6 separate regions of the Homo sapiens genome follow, and all the other regions are reported to be linked to region 6. The links are microRNA targets in miRTarBase. Many come from high-throughput screens and were not tested one by one. Region 6 holds a microRNA gene; each other region holds the end of a gene's coding sequence.

Region 1 (4,089 bases), not on the chromosome of region 6:
TGCCTGGCTATAATAACCATTTTAATATGTGTGTGTATGTCATTAACATCATGTCGTATACCTTAAATATATACAATTTATTTTTTAAAAGCTTATACAAACTATATTATCAGATAAGGGGTTAATTTCCACAATATATAAGAGCTCAAGTGATTCTCCTGCCTCAGCCTCCTGAGTAGCTGGGACTACAGGCGTACACCACCAGCCTGGCTAATTTTTTTTTTTGTATTTTTAGTAGAGACGGGGTTTCACCATGTTGGCCAGGCTGGTATCAAACTCCTGGGCTCAGGTGATCCTCCTGCCTCGGCCTCCCAAAGTGCTGGGATTACAGGCGTGAGCCACCATGCCCGGCCCTGAGTGTAAGTATCTTGAATGTAAAATCAGGAAACCCTTGACTGCCTTCAAACACATGGGGAAGGTTCAAGATCTGGAACTTGTTTTCTGTCTCTTCCATTTTGTGAAAAGCTACAAAATCAGGAACCCCTATTCCCTCACAAGGACAGCAGAGTCTGGCCTGGTCTTGGGCTGGCATAGGTTCAGCTCAGCCTCCTGCTCTTCTGCACTCATGACCAATAGGAAAAATCTTCAAGAACTGCATGCCTGTGGGGAGAAAAAGCCCACAGCTGCCTAGAAACACCAGTTGGCAGCTGGGTGCGGTGGCTCACCCCTCTAATTCCAGCACTTTAGGAGGCCGAGGCGGGCGGATCACGAGGTCAGGAGTTCGAGACCAGTCTGGCCAACATGATGAAACCCCATCTCTACTAAAAATACAAAAATTAGCCGGGTGTGGTGGCATGTACCTGTAATCCCAGTTACTCGGGAGGCTGAGGCTGAATTGCTTGAACCAGGGAGTCGGAGCTTGCAGTGAGCCGAGATCACACCACTGCACTACAGCCTGGCAACGGAGCAAGACTCTGTCTCAAAAAACAAAAACAAAAACAAAACCACCAGTCGGCATAGGGCCTTGCCTGCCCCCTCGCCAGCAAGCTCTGTTAGACATGGGAAATCCAGGTCACACATGCCCCTGAAGTGAATGCAGAGCTAACTTACACTGGGCTCCTACTTGCCAAGTGGATTCAGCCACTAGACTGGCAGACAACTGGCAAAAACTGAGCATAGAACCACGTTCCCAGGAATGCCATGCACGAGAGAAAGACAGGAATCTGTACCCGAAGCCGGGGAGGACAGTGGGTGGTCATCTCTCCCTTGACCCACATTGGCCAGGGGGTCCCCTCCCACTCGAGGTAGATGACTAAACCGTGAACCTGCTGTTTTAGGGATTGCCACGGTCACCCAGGGTGATTCCAGCCATCTTCCTCTCAGATGGACATGTCTTTTAAATATCATCATTATTAAGGGATGAGCCATTTCTAATGCTGAACAAAATGAAAAGCACATGGGCATAGGTACTCAACAGATGTCCTTGGGATAAATGAGTGTTTGCTTCTCTCCAACACCAACTCCAACGACTAACTTGGAGAAGATTGTCTACGATCATTATAGCAGCTTAACTGTGCGAATTGGCCACTCACTGGTATTTTGTTTTGTTTTTTGAGATGGAGTCTCACTCTGTTGCCCAGGCTGGAGTGCAGTGGTGTGATCTTGGCTCACTGCAACCTCTGCCTCCCGGGTTCAAGTGATTCTCCTGCCTCAGCTTCCTGAGTAGCTGGGACTACAGGCATCTGTCACCATGCCTGGCTAATTTTTTATATTTTTAGTACAGACAGGGTTTCACCGTATTAGCCAGGATGGTGTCGATCTCCTGACCTCGTGATCCGCCTGCCTCAGCCTCCCAAAGTGCTGAGATTACAGGCATGAGCCACTGCGCCCGGCTGACTCACTGGTATTTTTTAACCATAGTATTTCCTGTGCCTGAGCGCAAATAAATAGTAGGCATCAAACCAATAAAACCATGTAGTAACAATTTACAAAAATACATCTTTATTGTGTTCCAATGTTGTTGCATTATACAGATACCTAGTTATATAAACTTGGTCTTCATGTTAAATATAAACACAAAAAAACTAGAAACAAATCAGCAAAACCATCAGAAAATCCCTCTGAGCCATGAATCCTTATTAAAAATGTATAGTGGGGGGTACCTGTAGCTGTATGTTGAAGCAGGAGGACTGCTTGAACTCAGGAGTTCAAGACCAGCCTGGACGACATAGCAAGATGCCATCTCTTTAAAAAAAAAAAAAAAAAAAAAAAAAAGGGCCAGGCACAGTGGCTCACGCTTGTAATCCCAGCACTTTGGGAGGCTGAGGTGGGTGGATCACCTGAGGTCAGGAGTTTGAGACCAGCCCGGCCAACACGGTGAAACCCCGTCTCTACTAAAAAATACAAAAATTAGCTGGGCATAGTGGCGGGCACCTGTAGTTCCAGCTACTCTGGAGGCTGAGGCAGGAGAATTGCTTGAACCCAGGAGGCAGAGGTTGCAGTGAGCCAAGATCGTGCCATTGCACTCCAGCCTGGGCAACAAGAGTGAAACTCCCTCTCAAAAAAAAAAGTACAGTGGGATGATGAAATTGTCTTCAATCACCACACTCCGAAAATAGTTAACTGTAACCAAACGTAAATGTTGAAAGCAGCAATAAAGACAAAAGCGATACAGAATAAAAGCATGGCGGGGCTCACCATATCCAGGGGATTGGGCAAGTCAGATGCTTGCCGACCCCTCAGCAACCTGTCTTGTGCAAAAATGATCAGGGACTCCATCATTAAGCCCCAGGTTACCTTCACCAGCACCTGCAGGGGAACACCCCAGAAGACGAGCCCCATGGCTTCAGAACACACATTTCAGAGGACCAAAAGATGAGGAAGAGATCCACTTCACTCCCCAAAGTCTCTTGCGGAGCCCTAACTCAATCACTCAGTGACCAAGAGCTGGCAATGTACTGAATATTCACAACTGCAGCAAAAGGTACCCTCAAACATAAGGCCCAGAAACTCTTGCTGAATTTCAAAGTAGAAACGCTTGAATGTTAACCTCGGGAGCAGACATGTTATTGCGACTGCATACTGAGTCGGACCTGTTTCTCCTGCGGGTTTTGAGTCTAAGTCCACAAGGGGCCTGGGAGGCAAGCTGTCCTCCTAGTCGTCTCTCCAAGGAGTTTGAACACAGAGAGAGCCCATCATCCCTCCGCCTTTCATTGCCATCTTCAGCGATTCCAACGGCTGGAGGGAGAGTCTGGGAAGCACACAGGCCCCAAACCTGACAGGGCCGAGCCCAGCCCTGATGGTTTCCCTTCCTTGCTGGGACACAGCTCCTTCCAGCAGTTGAGAAACTCAAGGGACAGTCCCTCTCACGGGGCTGGAGGATCCTGTGGACAGCCATCCCTGTCTTTAGGCAGGTGTGTGTGACGGGTCAGTTCCGAGACTCCGAGGCTGTGGGGCTGCGGACCGTGGACATGAGGTGTGACTTGTAGGTCTTGCTCAGGCCAGTCATCCAGAACTTCAGCAGCTTGACATTGTCCTCCTCGGACGCACCCAGGATGCTCAGCAGCTTCTGTGTGTCCTCTTTGGGTCGACTGTCCACCTTGGTGAACTTAAAAAGCACCTTCACTTTGCTGAAGAAAACCAAAACAAAACACTCAGACACCACAGCACAATCCCTCGAGCCCTGGTCACGGGGCCAACCAGGGGTGACACGGCTTTGGCACCAGCAGGAGCTGTGCAGGCAGAGCTGGAATCCACACCCTTGGGGCAGCAGGCTTGGCCCCTGAACTGCTGAAAGGAGCTGTGTCCCAGCAAGGAAGGGAAGCTGTCGGGGCTGGGCTCGGCCCTCTGTCGGGTATGGGTATGGGGCCTGTGCGCTTCCCACACCCTCCCTCAAGCTGTTGTCAAGACGCCAAGAAGAAAGAAAAACCTTCCTTAAACTCGTGGAAGACACTGGTTGCTCCTAAGCTTCACTGCATGATTTTAAATCAGGACAATGTTTGATTAATAAATTTGACCCAAAAAATTACCAAGAATCGAGGCAGGAGGAAATAAAGTAAATTTGCTTACAAAAAAAAAAACCCGGGGGGCCAGGTGCAGTGGCTCACGCCTGTAATCCCAGCACTTTGGGAGGCCAAGGTGGGCGGATCA
Region 2 (4,089 bases), not on the chromosome of region 6:
AGAACCCTTAGCAACAGTCCTTTTTGGATGAAAATCTTTGCAGGGCCTTTTAATTAGGAATTGACAGGGTGATTAACTTATAATTCACAAAAATAAATGTGGAAAAGAGAAGTACAGGTCAATTTCTAGCTGTGTTAAACTGTAAGGACAGCACTATTGGCAAGTGATTGCTTCCTTTTAACAGCTTTTAAAATTTTTCTTAATTGGATCGTTTGTTTTCTAATTGGATAGGGAGAACCATCATATGGCTTTCAATTACTAGTTGTGGCATGGTGATCCTGTCATATGGCACATGCTAAGAAAGTCAGACTGTCAACATATAAGATGAAATATATACCATCTCCAAGCAGCTTTCTGTGTCAATAAGAAAGAGGGGAAACCTCTGATATCCTGGGTAGGTAAAGGCGTGCTGAAATGGGACATAATAACTAGCTTGATTTTCTAGGGACTTGTGTTTCCATTCTACAGACTAAGTTACAATTTCTTAAAATGTTTCATCATCATAACTAGAACTGACCCTAAGAATATAAGATTATAATTTTATTTCACACACAAACACATACATGAGAAAATGCTGGTCTCCTCAAATTAATTTTTTTCCTGCCCATTGGTGAATTTAGAGATTCTCTAAGAAACAAAGTTTCTCTATAGCTTTCTGGCTTTACAGCCTCTATGGGATCCCTTTTGCCTACAGGATAAAATCTGAATATGTTATCATGGCTGATATCTGATCCCAACATCTTTCTCTAGCTTTATATTCCAAAATTGCTAGGCATGCACTTCACCCTTTATTCACTGAACTTCTCACTTTTCTTTGGAGAATGTCAGGTCTTTCATGACTCTGTTCGTGCCATTCCTGTTTCCTGGTGTGTTTTCTGCATTTTTCTTTGGTAAATCTTGTTCATTGGTCAAGATTAGATAGAAAAGGTTACCTTCCCAATGAAGCCACATCTAACTCTGTAACAGAGTCAGAGGACAGTTACTGCCTGTAACTGAGTCTTTTGGTATTTGTCAGCCACTGAGCATTGTTAATATGTCTGGAATAGCTTCTGTTCTGTTTGCCCATTCATTCAACAATACATTTTGAGCATCTTTAAGTATAGGTGCCGAATCCTGGGTCTACACGCTTACCAAGATGGCTAAGGCACCTGATCTTGTATTGAACTGTAATTAATTGTTAGGGATAGTCTCCCTCACTGGGCTGAAACTACAGAGGGTAGAAATATTTGTCTTATTTAATATTTGTGTCACCAGTGCCTAGAATTTTGCCTGGTTCAAACTAGGAGATAAGGAAATGCTCACTGGTGTTTCATGACTTCTTGCTGGAGAATATTGACCAGTTATATGAAATCTAACCTTTTAGTCAACCTAGTATACTTATAATCTCAGCTTCTAAACATGGAAGACTTGATATGGCCGTCATCACTGTATTTGAGATGTTACGGAATCTAATAATAACTTTTTGGTGTAACCCTTTTTATGCCTTTAGTGTGTTAGGTCAGATCCTGTGATGGGCACTTTGGCTCAGCACGTTGGAATGGCCTTTTCCCAGAGAGGAAACACATTCTCTGATTAAATGCCCTTAGCAGGCAGGGACAGGACACAGCTGGGGTTTGAATCAGGCTAAATCCCATCAGATTGGAAATCAAGAAGCTGGTGCTTTTGAAGATTATAAATCTGGAAAGCAACAGAGACAAGGGGCTGTGAGTCCCTGCCCAAAGCAGGTAGTGCCACTTCTCTTTGGCTTTCAGTGCTGGTTCTCTCTGGCTGATGCTTCCAGAATAACTTTAAAGATGGATACGTGTGAAGGGATAAGATTTTAATGCTAGAACCACTAAATCTACTCTCCCCCAACGCTTCAAAAAGGGAAGTAATCAAAGTCTTGGGAAAGACCTAATTGAGAATACGGAATGGCATGGAAATGAGAACGACTTGAAATAGAATGCCAGAAACTCTTGTTTCATGTCTCCATGTTTTTCTGAAAGGCATAATTACAATTTTACTTATAAGAATCACTTAAAGCTAGCAAGTCTGCCAGCCCACTGTTACTGGTGACTTCAGATCATGGAGTTCTGCTTCATGCGACTTTTTTTCAGCTTTTTGTATGTGTATACATCCCACTGGATGAAACTGCACTTCAGCACTTATTGTGGTGGCTTCTCTGTTCTTGGCTACAAGCCCACTTACTGGCGCCATTGCTAAAATGAAGACATTCAAAAGGGACAAGGGAGTCCTCTGCTTCCTCAGGCAGCTCCATGGATGTTGGAGCTGCCTGCACATCTGGCTATCTCTTGAGCAGACTCTCCCCGTCTCCTGAATACCCCATCTAAACAGACAGCCTATGCCGTGGAGCTCATTATTGCCCTAAGTGTTTGCTCTGGATCTGTGCTTCACCCGTTTTATTTACATGTTTTATTTTTCATTTTATGAACAAATCGATAACTATACTTACTCTTTATCACACTGGATTAGTTTTATTTATTCTGTTTGAATTTGATTAAAAAGCTGTCAAACGTAAGTCTACATTTTTATCAGCAGAATACTTTCATAAAACCAGTATGAGATGTGTTCAACTAGAACATACTTTTCAAAATAAAACAATGTTTGATATATTCTAGACAGTTACCCTTTTGTTTATCCATGACAACTGAAACTATCAAATGGATAAAGCAATCTAAGTCTAGTCAAGTAATCCTTAGGGCATATGAAAAAAAAGGCTTTAAAAAAGTTCTTTCTAGATGGATTTAATGTAATTCACCAATAAAGCATCCTCAGAAGTATAATAAAAATTCTACATAAAATGACATAGCCAGGGAAAAGGAAGATATACAGTTTGATGAAGATTCAAAATGGATGTTAGCATTAAAAATGAGCAGTCATGCAATTCCTGTGTAATATAAAGATCAAAATTGCAGGGCACTAATTTTGCTTCTAATTTATAAGATAGTGTGTTTATGGGACTACATTTGTATTTATAAAAAATTCAATGGCAAATGCTTTGAACTGTCATTTTTCTTGAGAAAAATTGCCATTCAACATGTTATATTTATAAATTTCACTGTATAGCATTGAAAATAGCTGGACTATATTTATATATACAAAAATGTTCTGGAAAGATGAAATATATATGTTTTGGTTGTGAACCTGATCTCCTTCGTTCAATTTACAAATTAATAGCTTCTGCCTTCCTACCTCTTTGTGTTCTATCCGTGTCCAAGTAACAGTATGGAGTCATGTTTAAGGCAGCCTGGATCTTGGGAAAGCACATGTGTGCACATGCACCCCTACTCCCAACCACACTCACTCACATCTCCACATACACAACCACACACCCAATTCCCTGGAGCAGCATTAAGGCCATTTTTTGAATATGTGCTAGTCTTTGCATATTATTTAATAGCATGAGGCATGCATGATGTGCTCCTAGAAGTGCTAGAAGGCATAGCACCAAAGGGGTTAATGTAGAACACATAGAGGCAAATATTGTCAATTATTTTATTCAAATGTTTGGAACTTAAACACAAAATCATCATTAAGTTTTCACAAAATGAGGCATCTGTCGCTTGAAAGGCAAAAAATATTTCAGAAATATGTTTACAGAAATGTAAAAATATTAGGCATCAAGACAGATGTGAACGTATTCAGTAGCTTGTCTTGTCTGTCAGTCTTCCTCTGAGCCGAAGATCTTACTGTACTCACTCAGCATGAGCTCAGCTATCTGGTTCTGGTAGACCATGTGGATCGCCATGTTTCCTGTTTCATTTTCAGCTCGCAGAAGGGTAGGTCCAAATACAATCCCCAAGCTTTGCGTGGACATGAGGTTCTTGGAGGCTTTGGCCACTATCCTGTGGAGAGAGAGAAAAAAAAATAATTTCACTGGAGTTTGAAGTGAAGTTATGGCTACTTTGGAGTGATTAAAAAAGGTTTCTCATTCAGGAAAAGTAACTGCATTATAACATTATTTAATCTTCTACCCTACATACTTTACTGTATGGAAGTAGAACCTATGAGTTTTGGGGAAAGGATACATTGCCTTGTCCAACTTTTTACCCCCATAATAGCTGAGCATTGTGGGTACTCAACAAATAT
Region 3 (4,084 bases), not on the chromosome of region 6:
AGGGAGAACTGCTTGAGTCCAGAAGTCAAGTATACAGTGAGCCAAGATTGTGCCACTGCACTCCACCATGGGTGACAAAGTGAGACTCTGTCTCAGGAAAAAAAAAAGGGGGGGAGGGGGAGGGGTGAAAAAGATAAGCTACAGACCAATGGAAACCAAAAATCCCATAAAGGAATCTCAAAGAACTCTCAAAACTCAACAGAAGAAACAATCCAATCAGAAAATGGGTGAAAGACAGGAATATTCCACTGAAGCGAAACACAGGTGTCCACCACTGGGAAATGCAAATGAAAAACCACCGTGAGGCATCACGACACACCTGTCAGAACGGCTGAAGTAAAAACATGTGGACACCACTAAGTGCTGTGGAGGATTCAGGGAAACTGATCATCCTAGGTTGCCGGTGAGGACATGAGTTTGACAGTTTGTGGCCAGGTGCGGTGGCTCACGCCTGTAATCCCAGAACTTTGGGAGGCTGAGGCGGGCAGATCACGAAGTCAGGAGATCGAGACCATCCTGGCTAACATGGTGAAACCCCGTCTCTACTAAAAATACAAAAAACTAGCCGGGCGTGGTGGCGGGCGCCTGTAGTCCCAGCTATGGGGAGGCTGAGGCAGGAGAATGGCATGAACCCGGGAGGCAGAGCTTGCAGTGAGCCGAGACTGCGCCACTGCACTCCAGCCTGGGCAAAAGAGTGAGACTCCGTCTCAAAAAAAAAAAAAAAAAGTTTGATTGTTTAAAAAACGAAACATGCAACAACCCTATGACCAAGCATTTACACTCCTCGAAAACTAATCCTGACACAGAAACCTGTACATGAATAGTCGTAGCAGCTTTATTTGGAATAGCCCCAAACTGGAAACATCCCAGGTGTCCTTCAGGGGGCCAATGCATACACCACGGAATACCACTCAGCAATAAAAAGGAGCAAACTGTTGACACATGCAATGCCTGGATGATCTCCCGAGAATGACGCCGAGTGAAAAAAGACAATCCCGAATGCTTACACACTATGCTCCCATTTATACAACATTCTTGAAATGACAAAATAAGAAGAGATGAACGATTAGTGGTTACCAGGAGTTAGGGAAGGTGGGGAGGGAGATCCTTGTGGGGATGGGACTTCTTTATCCTGATTGCAGTGGTAGTTACACAGATGTACATGTGACAAATGATTTGGACTGTCCACCCACATCGCACCAGTGTCAGAGTCTTTGTTGGAATACTGCATTACAACCATATAAGATGTAACCATGGAGGGAAACTAGATGAAGGGTGCGTGGGGCCCTTACCTTTACAACTTCCTATCATCTGAAATTATTTCAAAATATAAAGTTAGGAAAAAAGAAAGCAACAGCTCTAAGTGCAGTATGGCATCCTGGATTGGCTGCTGCAGCAGAAAAGGGACATTGGGAAAAATGGTAAAATCCAAATAAACTCTAGCTATTAGTATGATTGCACCTTTAGTTTTGATAAATGTACCAAGGTTATATGTAAGCTGTTAACATTAGGGGAACCTGGGTGAAAGGTGTATGAAACTTCTGTGAATCTGGGCACGGTGGCTCACGCCTATAATCTCAACACTTTGGGAGGCCGAGGCAGGAGGATCGCTTGAGCCTAGGAGTTCGAGACTACCCCAGGCAACATAATGAGACCCTATCTCTACAAAAAAAAATTAAAAGTATTAGCTGGGTGTGGTGGTGCCTACCTGTAGTCCCTACTACTCAGGAGGCTGAGGTGGCAGGATGGCCTGAACCAGGGAGGTCGAGGCTGCAGCAAGCCGTGATCACACCACTGCACTCCAGTCTGGGCGACAGAGCAAGATCTTGTCTCAATAATAATAATAATAATAATAATAATAATAAATAAATAAAAAATTGAAAACTCTGATGCCGACTCTGATTAAATCACAAGCTCTGGTGGCAGGTCCACGTATTTTTAATTTGCCAGGTGATTCTGGTGTGCAGCCAAGGTTAAGAATCCCTGATCTTAGCTCACACCTATAATCCCAGCACTTTGGGAGGCCAAGGCAGGCAGATCACCTGAGGTCAGGAGTTCAAGATCAGCCTGGCCAACATGGTGAAACCCCATCTCTACTAAAAATACAAAAATTAGCCGGGTGTGGTGGTGGGCACCTGTAATCCCAGCTACTCAGGGGGCTGAGACAGGAGAATGGCTTGAACCTGGGAGGTGGAGGTTGCAGTGAGCCAAGATCTCACCACTGCACTCCAGCCTGGGTGACAGAGTGAGACTCCATCTCAAATAAACAAACAAAAAACCACTGTTCTGGAGAGAGGATTTTAAAGCATCTGTTTCCAACCCGGGCTTGCTCTCAGAGTTTATTCCTTGAGGACAATTTCTAAGCAAGGATATCACTGTTGTTTTGACCTTCAGTCCCATTTATAAGGGTCCAAATTCCTTTGAGAAAAGTTCCAGAAATCCTCCTCCCTCCCTACCCAATCTATGATCCTATGTCCTTGTGATGCCCGTTTCCACACAGCTGAAGAACTACGGAAGGAAAATGTAGTAAACTAGAAGAAAAAGACAAATGCCTTCCTGTTCCCACTTCTCTAAAACCCCATAGCTAGGAACAGAAAAAAAGGAAAAGACTTGAAATGTTCTAGAGATATAACAAAAACTTTTTTTTTTTTAAAGAGGATCCACCTGGTTCATGAACCCTCCCTCACTGCTCTCTGCACATCACGGCCACACAGCACCTGCAGGGAGGCTGTGGGGAGGTGTGGAGCAGGTGCAACAGGCAGCTACTCTCCTGGGGGCCACACGGCGGAGAGAGGATTCGATGCAGCATGACGATCCCTTCCTCCCAGGCATGACCTCTTCTCAGAACACGGGAACTGACAACACTGCGAGTGGCAACTCAGCAGGTGGGCAGAGAAGCAGAAAGGGGCCCTCAGCACCACTAGGCCAGCTCTCAGAATCAGAAGAGCAGCCTCCAGGGAGGGAGCAGGGCTACAGGGACAGCCTACGGGCAGTGGAGCTTCTGGTTTGGCACATGGGAAAGGCTGGGGCGCATGCGCTGAAACATGACACCATCAGGGAAGCCAGAAAGGACAACATGGACAAGGCCATCGATCTGAACCCCCAGCCAAAATGGGTGCTCTCGGCTTGCTCAAAAAGTGCTGCCAGCAGCGATAGGTTGGCAAATTAAAAGCAAACAAATAGAGGTCACGGCCACACAAAGGCAGTAACTGCACTCACAAGGTGGCTCAGCCCAAAGAGGTCTGAATCTGAATATGCCGCACTGTCCCTGCCCCGGGGGAGAAGGGGAAGGCTGGGCCCTGGGAACTAGAGATGATGGCATTCCTTTCATTCCTTCCTGAGGCGGGCCTGGAGGGCTGTGCCCTGGTGACTCCTGTCTCCTAAAGGAGGGCAGGGCCGGCTGAAGGATCCAGGCATTGATGTCTAGTTCTGAGGACACCCAGGACCCGCAACTACAAGGGCCATCTAAAACGTGGCCTGGAGGGGATGGGGGCAGGCGGGCACAAAACTTCTGCTCAGCTCACTCCAGCTCCCCACGTGCTCATCTGTTCCCCAGATCTGGGGCTGCCTAGTGAGCCGTTAAACGCCTGGGTTCCGCCCAGGGCTGCCTTCCACCGGGACGCCGGGCCTGCTGTGGCTGGACCCTACAGGAGACAAGGGAAGGAGAATTAACATCAAAGCTGGTAAAGTATCCTGTCAAAACCAAGTGCCAAATCCTCTGTGGGACAGGAAGGGGCAGCTAAGACAGGTGCTTCGGGATGCCTTGGGAAGTATCAGAGCAGAAACAGGAGCGACTGGTTAGCAGATGGTCAGCCAACAGATGCCTTCCCTGGGAGACGGGGAAGCTGGGGCTGTGGATTTCTGGCCCCGAGGGTCCCAGGTCATTATGCTGAACAAGAGGCACCTTCCCGGGACGATACAGCACCCTGTGCTGGAAGGAAGCACCATTTTCCACAGTGGAGGAGTCTCATGACCCCTCCTGTCTTCCAGAAGGATGGAAGGGAGCGCCCACCCCACACCCCTGGAGAAAAATGCCCCCCAGCCTGGGGAGCCATGGGCTCTGCTCCTCCCTCAGCTGAAGGGC
Region 4 (4,089 bases), not on the chromosome of region 6:
GGGGTGTGATCTGTCAGCGGGCTGGGGTGCCTGTGCAGTGATCTGTTGGTGGGCTGGGTGTGATCTGTTGACGGGCTGGGGTGTGATCTGTCAGTGGGCTGGGGTGTGATCTGTGGGCGGGCTGGGGTGCCTGTGCAGTGATCTGTCGGCGGGCCGGGGTGTGATCTGTGGGCGGGCTGGGGTGCCTGTGCAGTGATCTGTCCGCAGGCTGGGGTGTGATCTGTCGGCGGGCTGGGGTGTGATCTGTGGGCAGGCTGGGGTGCCTGTGCGGTGATCTGTCGGGGGGCTGGGGTGTGATCTGTGGGCGGGCTGGGGTGCCTGTGCGGTGATCTGTGGGCGGGCTGGGGTGCCTGTGAAGTCATCTGTCGGTGGGCCGGGGTGTGATCTGTCGGCAGGCTGTGGAGTGATCTGTCGGTGGGCTGGCTGCCTGTGTGGTGATCCGTCGGCGGGCTGGGGTGCCTATGTGGTGATCTGTCAGCAGGCTGGGGTGTGATCTGTCTATGGGCCAGGGTGTGATCTGTTGGTGGGCTGCAGTGTGATCTGTCGGGCTGGGGTGTGATCTGTCCGCGGGCCGGGGTGGGATCTGTTGGTGGGCTGCGGTGGGACCTGTCAGCGGGCTGGGGTGTGATCTGTCAGCGGGCTGGGGTGTGATCTGTGGGTGGGCTGGGGTGCCTGTGCAGTGACAGTCTGCTGTGCACTGGGGGGTTGGAAGGTCGAGGCCACTGGTGACAGAGGGGAAGCTCCTGAGAGGTTTACTTAAAAGTAAATGAGGGATGTTGTTTGGCCTTTGCCCATTTTGACCAACCAGCTTATTGTTTTTTTCTTGCAACAACAAAATACACACATAGCTATAGACACATTTTAATTATAGAAAGGATTGCAGGGAAAATACCTTTATTATTGTGAGTCTAAAATTCTTTAGCCTTTAACTCACTTTTTTCCCGTTGAAATAATTGTTTTTTTAATGTGGTGTTTGAAACACCTATGTTTTTAGAAGTTGAAATACAGCAGAATAGATGCTCTTTTTATACATACGTGTGTGTGTAGGTATGTATCTATACACACGTGTGTACACTGATATACATACACATATATGTAATTTTAAAAATAGGATCGTATTAAACATATGATCTTACATTTTGCATTCTTTATTTAATAGCACATTCTAAGTATTTCCTGAGGCATTACATATTCTTCGAATAATGCCTCAAGTATTCTGTTATATGGATGAAGCATATTATTCATCTACCTATTCCATTCTTTTTTTTTTTTTTTTTTTTTTTTTTTTAAAGACAGACAGAGTCTTGCCCGGTCCCCCAGGCTGGAGTGTAGTGTCGTGATCTCAGCTCACTGCAGCCTCTGCCTCCTGGGTTTGAGTGATCCTCCCAGCTCAGCCTCCTGAATAGCTGGGCGTGCACCACCATGCCCAGCTAATTTTTGTATAGTTGTAGACACTGGGCCTTGCCATGTTGCCCAGGCTGGTCTTGAACTCCTGGGCTCAAGAGATCTGCCGGCCTCAGCCTCTGAAAGTGCTGGGATTACATGTGTGAGCCACCGCGCCTGGCCCCTCTTTTTCACATTTTAAGTTGCTTCCAATTTTCTTCTACTATAAAAAATGTGATAAACATATAGTATATGACTCTGTCCACATCTCTCACATTTTCTTACAGTCGACTTTAGACATAATGACCTTCATGAAGTTTTCATAAACATTATCAATAGCGTAATAAATCCCCCAATACAATGGCTGGTGCACAGCAGGCATTCAAGAATTGTTACCTATAAATAGGAAATCAAGTAGGTGAGAGAACAGACCAATTCTGTCACAGCAGAGGGCTGGGAAAGATATCTGCTCCACCTCTTCAGGGCAGGATGTAACTGGGCAGTCTAGGGTAAGAGGGATGAGAAGAAATGGGGATGCTTTTGCTCCCCAGTGCAGGTGGACCTGCCAATACCTAGAATGAAATGATTCCTTGCTTTGAACCAAACATGCCAATACTACCCTCTCTGACACCCTCTCAGATGTGCCCTCTCCTTGGTCCTTAGGATCTCCTGTAAGCACTCATCTTCATCAGGGGAGGTGGGGATTCCAATGGCATTGAGTACACACTTGATTCAGAGCCTTCATGCAGCTGAAACTGTGATCAGAGAACAAACAACATGAATCACCATGTTCTCAAAGATGATTTATTGGCTATCCTCACTCATGGGAAAAAGAAAAACGTAAATGAAATCAAAACAAAACAAGATGAAAATTGATACAAATGGACCCCTGGGGCTTTCACGTCTGCAGCCTACGTACAGGAGGCCCCATCAAAAGAAATGACGCTTTAATTTCTGCTAAGGTCTACGGTCTAACGTGGTATGATAAGGGGATTTTTTAAACAAAGAAACTAGAATGCTTACTAGCCCATGAGTGACATGTCTTCCAAGCCCACATGGTCACACTTGGGAATTGCTGGGTTCCTTTTTGGTTTTTTTTTTTTTTTTGAGATGGACGTCTCACTCTGTCGTCCAGGCTGGAGTGCAGTGGTGTGATCACAGCTCAGTGCAGTGAACTCCTGGACTCAAGCCACCCTCCCACTTCAGCCTCCCAAGTAGCCGGGACAACAAGCACAAGCCACCACACCTGGCTAATTTTTAAAATATTTTGTAGCGATGGGGGCCTCCCTGTGTTTCCCAGGCTGATCTCGACCTCCGAGGCTCAATCGATACCCCCACCTCGGTCTCCCAAAGTGTTGGGATTACAGGCTTGACGACTGTGCCCGGCCTGGGCTTTTTGGAATGAGTCTTCCTGGTCCCGACAGTTCTCCTGCATGTCCTTGTGGTGGCCAGTCTCTGTTCTTTGATGACGAATTTGCTTTCTGAGTAGAGTCTGGTCACCTGGAGCTGGTTTGGTGGAATAAAGGACAATGGGGTTCTAGGATGTAGCTGGGAGATACAAGCTGTGAGTACTCTAATAATGAGATAAGTTTTCTTATGCAGGCCCCAGTTGGTCCTGAAGTCCTTCCTCAAAGAGGCGATCCTGAAACCTACACCAAGTGACGTGAGCATCAGGAGAATGCGCGTGCAGCAGCCTCCCAGGGTGAGTATGTGATGGGCTGGCATTCGTTTGGAAGCTTAGATACTGGGCTGGTCATTAAAACCTTGGCTTACCTTACCCGTTTGGGGCTCGATGGGTGCTAAAGCAGTTCTGTTTGTACTTTCTCGAAAAATGGAAGGCTGTCAATTTAAATTAAATTTATATTGGTCCAAAAAAGGCCGGGTCTAAAGGATTTCCATTCCTCAGAGGCAGACAGCAAGGGGGACCCTTTCTCCCCTTCCTTCTCTTCAAGTGCTTGCTTCCCAGCCCACTGGACATGCGTGTCCTTTGTGTCGCCTGCTCCCTGGAGGAATAAGGTCCCAAGCACCAGCAGTGCACAGGCCAGTCCTTGGCGGGTGGCCTCAGCACAGTGACCTGCCCGGCAGGAGGTCTCAGCACCTTAATCACAGGACTTCCCTGCGGTGTCTCTCTAGCGGGTCAGACACTGCCCTTGGGTCTGTCCCAAGGAACCCTGTCCTTCCCCCAGATCTGGAGGCCCCGGGGGCAAGGCACGGGGAGCGCCTAGTCCTCCGGGATGGGAGTGTTGCAGTTCCCGTGGTAGATCTTGACGTGGCCCTCACACCTGAAATAGGCCTCGAAGACGTCACTGTAGCCATGGTCCCTCCACCAGGTGCACAGCTGCCGGTTCCAGGTACAGTCCAGCACATGGAAGAGCTTGGGGTGCTCCATGCCGATCATGGTGAAGAAGTCCTGGTCCCCGAGGTGGCCGCGGAAGTGGTACTTGTCGGCCAGCTGCTGCACCTGCGCCGGCTCCAGCAGGCGGCTGTAGAGCGGGGACTGGCGCATGGCCTCCAGGTTCAGCAACATCACCCCGCTGTTGAAGCCCGGCAGCCCCTCGGGGGGCGGGCCCCCAACCCGGGTCTGGGGGTTCTCATGGCGGAACTGCCAGAATGTGTGCCTGTGGAGAGAGAGGACAGAGTTAGTCCGGTGTGCAGGGGAACCAGCCTGCCGGCCTGCTGCCCTGGGTCTTCACAGCCAGCCTGCAT
Region 5 (4,076 bases), not on the chromosome of region 6:
TTAATACATCTGCCTGGATCAGCTTAATCCAGAATGGTTCATGGGCTGCTTAGAACTTTTCTTTACAAAACCATAAGATTTGGATTTCAGATTGTATAGGTGCCTGGGACCAATGGATCATCTGTTCAAAGCTCTGATTATCTCCATTATGCTCTATCAGTTTCTTTATAGAATATGATTACTACTTAGTGATAAAGCTTCCTTTGCTAAGTTTCAGCCTAGGAACCATGATCCAAACCCTACTTCTAAAACATATAAACATGCTTTACAAGTATCCTATATATGGAAAAGTCCTTGGAATTATTTGTGTAATTAACCTGGTATTACATGTGTTATTTCCTGATCTACTATTGCAAATTGTCACCAATTGCAATATAAACATTCTTTGGCGTGTATGTTCAGAAATCTTAAAGTACTTCCCAAGGGATATTCAGGGGTTATTTTCAATGAAAAAAATACAATGAGTATTGATTTTTTTTCCTTTTATTATATTAGAAAAGTTGCCAATAATTCACTGATTAACAAGCACATGGGTTTTTCCTTTTAGGTACGAATTTGGTCAGGCTCTCTTCACTGGCTGGGCTGCTGCTTCTCTCTGCCTTCTGGGAGGTGCCCTACTTTGCTGTTCCTGTCCCCGAAAAACAACCTCTTACCCAACACCAAGGCCCTATCCAAAACCTGCACCTTCCAGCGGGAAAGACTACGTGTGACACAGAGGCAAAAGGAGAAAATCATGTTGAAACAAACCGAAAATGGACATTGAGATACTATCATTAACATTAGGACCTTAGAATTTTGGGTATTGTAATCTGAAGTATGGTATTACAAAACAAACAAACAAACAAAAAACCCATGTGTTAAAATACTCAGTGCTAAACATGGCTTAATCTTATTTTATCTTCTTTCCTCAATATAGGAGGGAAGATTTTTCCATTTGTATTACTGCTTCCCATTGAGTAATCATACTCAACTGGGGGAAGGGGTGCTCCTTAAATATATATAGATATGTATATATACATGTTTTTCTATTAAAAATAGACAGTAAAATACTATTCTCATTATGTTGATACTAGCATACTTAAAATATCTCTAAAATAGGTAAATGTATTTAATTCCATATTGATGAAGATGTTTATTGGTATATTTTCTTTTTCGTCTATATATACATATGTAACAGTCAAATATCATTTACTCTTCTTCATTAGCTTTGGGTGCCTTTGCCACAAGACCTAGCCTAATTTACCAAGGATGAATTCTTTCAATTCTTCATGCGTGCCCTTTTCATATACTTATTTTATTTTTTACCATAATCTTATAGCACTTGCATCGTTATTAAGCCCTTATTTGTTTTGTGTTTCATTGGTCTCTATCTCCTGAATCTAACACATTTCATAGCCTACATTTTAGTTTCTAAAGCCAAGAAGAATTTATTACAAATCAGAACTTTGGAGGCAAATCTTTCTGCATGACCAAAGTGATAAATTCCTGTTGACCTTCCCACACAATCCCTGTACTCTGACCCATAGCACTCTTGTTTGCTTTGAAAATATTTGTCCAATTGAGTAGCTGCATGCTGTTCCCCCAGGTGTTGTAACACAACTTTATTGATTGAATTTTTAAGCTACTTATTCATAGTTTTATATCCCCCTAAACTACCTTTTTGTTCCCCATTCCTTAATTGTATTGTTTTCCCAAGTGTAATTATCATGCGTTTTATATCTTCCTAATAAGGTGTGGTCTGTTTGTCTGAACAAAGTGCTAGACTTTCTGGAGTGATAATCTGGTGACAAATATTCTCTCTGTAGCTGTAAGCAAGTCACTTAATCTTTCTACCTCTTTTTTCTATCTGCCAAATTGAGATAATGATACTTAACCAGTTAGAAGAGGTAGTGTGAATATTAATTAGTTTATATTACTCTCATTCTTTGAACATGAACTATGCCTATGTAGTGTCTTTATTTGCTCAGCTGGCTGAGACACTGAAGAAGTCACTGAACAAAACCTACACACGTACCTTCATGTGATTCACTGCCTTCCTCTCTCTACCAGTCTATTTCCACTGAACAAAACCTACACACATACCTTCATGTGGTTCAGTGCCTTCCTCTCTCTACCAGTCTATTTCCACTGAACAAAACCTACGCACATACCTTCATGTGGCTCAGTGCCTTCCTCTCTCTACCAGTCTATTTCCATTCTTTCAGCTGTGTCTGACATGTTTGTGCTCTGTTCCATTTTAACAACTGCTCTTACTTTTCCAGTCTGTACAGAATGCTATTTCACTTGAGCAAGATGATGTAATGGAAAGGGTGTTGGCATTGGTGTCTGGAGACCTGGATTTGAGTCTTGGTGCTATCAATCACCGTCTGTGTTTGAGCAAGGCATTTGGCTGCTGTAAGCTTATTGCTTCATCTGTAAGCGGTGGTTTGTAATTCCTGATCTTCCCACCTCACAGTGATGTTGTGGGGATCCAGTGAGATAGAATACATGTAAGTGTGGTTTTGTAATTTAAAAAGTGCTATACTAAGGGAAAGAATTGAGGAATTAACTGCATACGTTTTGGTGTTGCTTTTCAAATGTTTGAAAACAAAAAAAATGTTAAGAAATGGGTTTCTTGCCTTAACCAGTCTCTCAAGTGATGAGACAGTGAAGTAAAATTGAGTGCACTAAACAAATAAGATTCTGAGGAAGTCTTATCTTCTGCAGTGAGTATGGCCCGATGCTTTCTGTGGCTAAACAGATGTAATGGGAAGAAATAAAAGCCTACGTGTTGGTAAATCCAACAGCAAGGGAGATTTTTGAATCATAATAACTCATAAGGTGCTATCTGTTCAGTGATGCCCTCAGAGCTCTTGCTGTTAGCTGGCAGCTGACGCTGCTAGGATAGTTAGTTTGGAAATGGTACTTCATAATAAACTACACAAGGAAAGTCAGCCACTGTGTCTTATGAGGAATTGGACCTAATAAATTTTAGTGTGCCTTCCAAACCTGAGAATATATGCTTTTGGAAGTTAAAATTTAAATGGCTTTTGCCACATACATAGATCTTCATGATGTGTGAGTGTAATTCCATGTGGATATCAGTTACCAAACATTACAAAAAAATTTTATGGCCCAAAATGACCAACGAAATTGTTACAATAGAATTTATCCAATTTTGATCTTTTTATATTCTTCTACCACACCTGGAAACAGACCAATAGACATTTTGGGGTTTTATAATAGGAATTTGTATAAAGCATTACTCTTTTTCAATAAATTGTTTTTTAATTTAAAAAAAGGATTATTGGCTTGTTTTCTAATCATTTATTGCAAGATTGCCATTCTTGGTAGAGGAGGTGGCTTGGGACAGGATCTGACTCACCATGATCCTGGGAAAGAACTATGATGCCTCTGGCCCATCTATCAAATTTGAGTGGCTCCACCCACTAGAATGCCCTATTTCTCTCAAATTGAGTTCCTCATCAAGGGTGGTAATAGAAGAGGATGCCAGGAGATGTTACTTAATACTTTTTCTCATCTATAAAAAGGGGACATACAATAATAAATGATAAGATATGAAGATATTTTGTGAACTATAAAGCACTGTGCAAACTTAAGTGGCTTTGTTCCTCACAAAGGTGGAAGAGTGAAAGACAGCTGCTGGAAACCCATTATTGTTTCTGTAATGATGATGATCAAAACTACTCCATAAGGATGTGATGGAACTCATTCACTCATTATCTTAAAGTATCAATAACTGACACAACCTTAAGTGTGGCCTGTTCCTGGACAATGTTCATATTGAGACCAGGCTTATAAGTAAAGGCTTGCAGCTCTAATGTGGAGTCTCAGACATTAGCATGATGGGTGAGGTGCAAAGATCATTGCCAGTCAATTTGACTTGAATTCTCCTTAAATTAAGCAGATGCATCAGAATTCTCACTCTGTTTCTACAGAATTTAAATATCTGAAGGTAAGGCCAAGGCCAGCAGAAGTTTGAAAGGCAATAAAGTATCTTGGTGCTCCTGAAAATAACTAAAGGAAAACTTGGATTGTGAATCATACCAAGTAGATATCACCTCTGTGTGAGCTCA
Region 6 (4,089 bases):
ACTCTGTGAGACTTTGAGGTAGAGTCCCAGGGTAAAGAGTTTGATTTTTTTTTAGCCTAATGTAGTTGAAAGACATTGGATGATTTTGAATAAGTGAGTGATATGATCTGATTTATGTTTTAAATAGATGACTGTGGCTGCTGCTTGAAAGCCATTTTGGAGGATAAAAAAGGAATGGAAGCGGGAGGACTAGTCTGGAAGTTTTCACATTAATCTAGATAGTGGCTTGAAATGGATTGGTTGTGGTGATATGACTGACAGAAGTCAGTGGATTTCAGTTAGTTTTTAAAGTAATATTGACATGGTGGATTGGTTGTGAGAGAAAGAGAAGAATCAGCATAATGATGATGATGATGAGAGCTTAAGCATAGTGAAAATTTAATATTTGCCAAGTGCTATTCTAAATGCTTTATATGAATTAATGCATTTAGTCTTTATGGTAACCCTATAAGGCAGGTACCATTATCACTCTCTGAGGCTTGTAGTATCTTTATACAGGTAGTGAGGAGCAGAAGCAGGATTTGAATCCATACAGTCTGGCATCAAGGTCTATGTTCTTGACCATTATATTACACTGCCTAGAATTTTGGCTTGAATAATTTATTAGGGGGTGATGCCTTTGCCAAGATGTAGAAGACTCCGAGAAAAATATGTAAAATAAAATAAAGAGTTCTATTCTGACCACGTTAAGTAGAAGGTGCTTATTGGTTACACAAATGGAGATGGCAAGTTTGAAGTTGGATTTGAGTGTCTAAATTTTTGGGGAGGAGAATGTGCAGCCATGAGACTCCAGGAAGAGTGTGGGATGTCAGTGGAGAAGAGAGGGGGCCCACAGCTGAGCTTGGTTTCCATACACTTCCACTTGATTTCATTAAGCAGAGAACATACTTCATTTGTTGTTAGAAAATGGGGCAGATCCTTAAATTGGAGCTGGATTTCTTTAAGGCAAAAATCTCTTTCTCCTCACACAGTGTGACTATTTATTTTTATTTTTATTTTTTATTTTTAGACAGGGTCTCTACTCTGTCACCCAGGCTGGAGTGCAGTGGTGCAATTACAACTCACCATGGCCTTGACCTCCCAGGCTCAAGCAGTCCGCCTGCCTTAGCCTCCTAAGTAGCTGGAGCCACAGGCCTGTGCCAACAGTGCCTGGCTAAGTTTTTATTAATAAAAGTTTATGTAGAGTTGGGGATATCCCTATGTTGCCTGGGTTGGTCTAGAACTCCTGTGTTCAAGTGATCCTTCTACCTGAGCCTCCTAAAGTTCTGGAATTACAGGCATGAGTCACCATGCCTGGCCTTAATTTCACTTTCTATTTGTGAGACTCATCTTTAGAAGGTACTGGTAAAACGTTAAAGAAACCAGACTTCCAAAAAATGTATTTATACACATCTTATTTAGATACAGAAAAAAGGACTGAGAAGTTCCCAGGAAGATAATTGAAAGGCAGGTAAGTGGCTCTTACTTGGAGTCACAGAGAAAAGCAAGGATTTTCTTTTTTGAAAAGGATTTCCTTTTTCACATTTAGAAAGTACCAGTTGGGTCTGTGGCTCACTAATTATTTGTTCGTTTGGAAAAATATGCTTTGTAGGCACTTGATCAGGTAATTTTTATTTCTAAAGAGTTTGGAATCCTCTTAAATCTTGTATCCTCTTTTTAAAAGTAGTGTTCAATTTTCTTCCTTAAACTGTGATTAAATATAATTAATTTTCTTGAATGGTTACTTAGTTGGGAATCATATAGGAGTTTTCTTACTATTTGTGTACAACTAGCTGATTTCTTGGGTTCTGGTTAACATGTCTTTTTAAATATACTGATCATTTAATGCCATTTTAAAGTGGGTCACTGTGAACTTGTCAGTGCTGCAGCAAATCCATCAATATGCAAGTAGCATATCACGATATGCAAGCATAACATGCTTTCACTTCCACCATTACTGTCAGGCACCAGTTCATTTGGTCTCCCTTGCTGCTGATCTGTGGGAAACAAAACGTTGCAGTTGAAAGCCATGAGACTATTAGGATGGTGCAAAAGTAATGTGGTTTTTTTCTTTACTTTTAATGGCAAAGACTGCAATTACTTTTGCGCCAACCTAATAACAGAAAAAAAATCATTTTTCGGGGGAAAATAAGCATATGCTCTTTCTAGTTTGACAGGTTTGTTGACTGAGGATGCTCAGCTGAACTTGATTGTTGTTCTATTTGTGAGATACTGGTTTGTTAACCTTTTTCTAAGATGCAGTTTACAATCTGTTGTCTATTCAACACATATTTCTTTTTTTTTAACTTTTAGGTTTGGGGGTACATGCGAAGGTTTGTTACATAGGTAAACTCATGTCATGGGGGCTTGTTGTACAGATTATTTCATCACCCAGGTATTAAACTCAGTACCCAATAGTTACCTTTTCTGCTCCTCTCCTTCCTCCCAACCTCCACCCTCAGGTAGACCCCAGTGTCTGTTGTTCTTTTCTGTGTGTGCAAGAGTTCTCATCATTTAGCTCTCACTAAGTGAGAACATGTGGTATTAGGTTTTCTATTCTTGGGTTAGTTTGCTAGTTAGTAGCCTCAGGCTCCATCCATGTTCCCACAAAAGACATGATCTCATTCTTTTTTATGGCTACATAGTATTCCATAATGTATGTGTACCACACTTTCTTTATCTAGTCTGTCACTGAAGGACATTTAGGTTGATTCCATGTCTTTGCTATTGTAAATGGTGCTGCAATGAACATTGGTGTACATATGTCTTGATGGTAGAATGATTTATATTCCTCTGGGTATATACCCAGTAACGGGATTGCAAGGTTGAATGATAGTTCTGCTTTTAGCTCTTTGAGGAATCAGTATACTGCTTTCCACATTGGTTGAACTAATTTACACTCCCTCCAACAGTGTATAAGTGTTCCCTCCTCTTCGCAACTTCATCAGCATCTGTTATTTTTTGACTTCTTAGTAATAGCCATTCTGACTGGTATGAGATGGTATCTCATTGTGGTTTTGATTTGCATTTCTCTAATGATCAATTGATACTGAACTTTTGTTCATATGCTTCTTGGCCACATGTATGTCCTCTTTAGAGAAGTGTCTGTTCATGTCCTTTGCCCACTTTTTAATGGGGTTGTTTATCTCTTGTATATTTAAATTCCTTATAGATGTTGAATATTAGACCTTTGTCAGATGCATAGTTTGCAAGTATTTTCTTCCATTCTGTAGGTTGTCTGTGTACTCTGTTGATAATTTCTTTTGCTGTGCAGAAGCTGTTAAGTTTAGTTAGATCCCATTTGCCAATTTTTGCTTTTGGTGTCTTTGTCATGAAATTTTTGCCCATTCCTATGTCCAGATGGTATTGCCTAAGTTGTCTTCCAGGGTTTTCATTGCTTTGGATTTTACATTTAAGTCTTTAATCCATTTTGAGTTGATTTTTATATATGGTATAAGGAAAAGTCCAGCTTCAATCTTCTGCATATGGCTAGCCAGTTATCCAGCACCATTTATTGAATAGGGGTTCTTTTCCCCATTGCTTGTTTTTGTCAGCTTTGTTGAAGATCATATGGTTGTAGGTGTGTGGGCTTATTGCTGGGCTCTCTGTTCTGTTCCATTGGTCTATGTGCTTGTTTTTGTACCTGTACCATGCTGTTTTGGTTACTGTATCCTGTGCTGTAGTTTGAAATTGGTAGTGTGATGCCTCAAGCGTTGTTCTTTCTGCTTAGGATTGCCTTGGCTATTCGGACTCTTTTTTAGTTTCATATGAACTTTAAAATAGTTTTTATTTATTTATTTTTTAGTTCTGTGAAGAATGTCATTGATAGTTTGATAGGAATAGGACTGAATTATATAAATTGCTTTGGGCAGTATGACCATTTTAATGATATTGACTTTTCCTGTCCATGAGCATGGGATGTTTTTCCATTTATTTGTGTATCTCTGATTTCTTTGAGCAGTATTTTGTAATTCTTATTGTTGCGATCTTTCACCTCCCTGGTTAGCTGTATTCCTAGGTATTTTATTCTTTTTGTGGCAATTGTGAATGGGATTGCCTTGTTGATTTGGCTCTCAGCTTGGCTTTTGTTGGTGTATAGGAATGCTAGCG

The links. Region 6 holds the annotated microRNA hsa-miR-548u (CAAAGACUGCAAUUACUUUUGCG, at 2,065-2,087, shown strand). A microRNA usually pairs through its seed, bases 2 to 8, with sites in the 3' UTR of a target mRNA and lowers its output. Matches are read on the target gene's strand: a 7mer-m8 pairs with bases 2 to 8, a 7mer-A1 pairs with bases 2 to 7 and ends in A, and an 8mer does both.
Region 1: miRTarBase lists FLCN as a target of hsa-miR-548u. Seed matches in the 3' UTR shown: 7mer-A1 at 2,595-2,601.
Region 2: the mRNA of ARHGAP15 is a reported target of hsa-miR-548u. The part of its 3' UTR that is shown has no 7-base or 8-base seed match.
Region 3: the mRNA of CNNM3 is a reported target of hsa-miR-548u. Seed matches in the 3' UTR shown: 7mer-m8 at 2,605-2,611.
Region 4: miRTarBase lists XXYLT1 as a target of hsa-miR-548u. The part of its 3' UTR that is shown has no 7-base or 8-base seed match.
Region 5: the mRNA of CLDN1 is a reported target of hsa-miR-548u. Seed matches in the 3' UTR shown: 7mer-A1 at 1,952-1,958.

The regions. Positions count from the first base shown.
Region 1 is chr17:17,210,288-17,214,376 of GRCh38, forward strand. It overlaps FLCN (folliculin), which reads right to left. Exons shown (of 14, transcript NM_144997.7): 14 at 1,925-3,569. The coding sequence ends at 3,368. Among named protein-coding and RNA genes, the nearest start is that of PLD6, 6.0 kb to the left of the region's middle.
Region 2 is chr2:143,767,745-143,771,833 of GRCh38, reverse strand. It overlaps ARHGAP15 (Rho GTPase activating protein 15), which reads right to left. Exons shown (of 14, transcript NM_018460.4): 14 at 3,482-3,845. The coding sequence ends at 3,662. The region is part of intron 2 of ARHGAP15-AS1 (ARHGAP15 antisense RNA 1); the gene reads left to right. Among named protein-coding and RNA genes, the nearest start is that of ARHGAP15-AS1, 6.3 kb to the left of the region's middle.
Region 3 is chr2:96,832,112-96,836,195 of GRCh38, reverse strand. It overlaps CNNM3 (cyclin and CBS domain divalent metal cation transport mediator 3), which reads right to left. Exons shown (of 8, transcript NM_017623.5): 8 at 814-3,644. The coding sequence ends at 3,580. LOC124907859 (a long non-coding RNA gene) reads left to right here and starts at 1,807. Exons shown (of 2, transcript XR_007087143.1): 1 at 1,807-2,885; 2 at 3,557-4,084. RefSeq lists enhancers at 2,419-3,038, 2,701-3,900.
Region 4 is chr3:195,066,111-195,070,199 of GRCh38, forward strand. It overlaps XXYLT1 (xyloside xylosyltransferase 1), which reads right to left. Exons shown (of 4, transcript NM_152531.5): 4 at 2,174-4,001. The coding sequence ends at 3,605. Among named protein-coding and RNA genes, the nearest start is that of XXYLT1-AS1, 26 kb to the right of the region's middle. RefSeq lists an enhancer at 2,222-3,421.
Region 5 is chr3:190,304,911-190,308,986 of GRCh38, reverse strand. CLDN1 (claudin 1) reads left to right here. Exons shown (of 4, transcript NM_021101.5): 4 at 548-3,280. The coding sequence ends at 710. It also overlaps a transcript of CLDN16 not described here. Among named protein-coding and RNA genes, the nearest start is that of CLDN1, 15 kb to the left of the region's middle.
Region 6 is chr6:57,388,116-57,392,204 of GRCh38, forward strand. It overlaps MIR548U (microRNA 548u), which reads left to right and starts at 2,017; the gene lies at 2,017-2,097. The region is part of intron 7 of PRIM2 (DNA primase subunit 2); the gene reads left to right.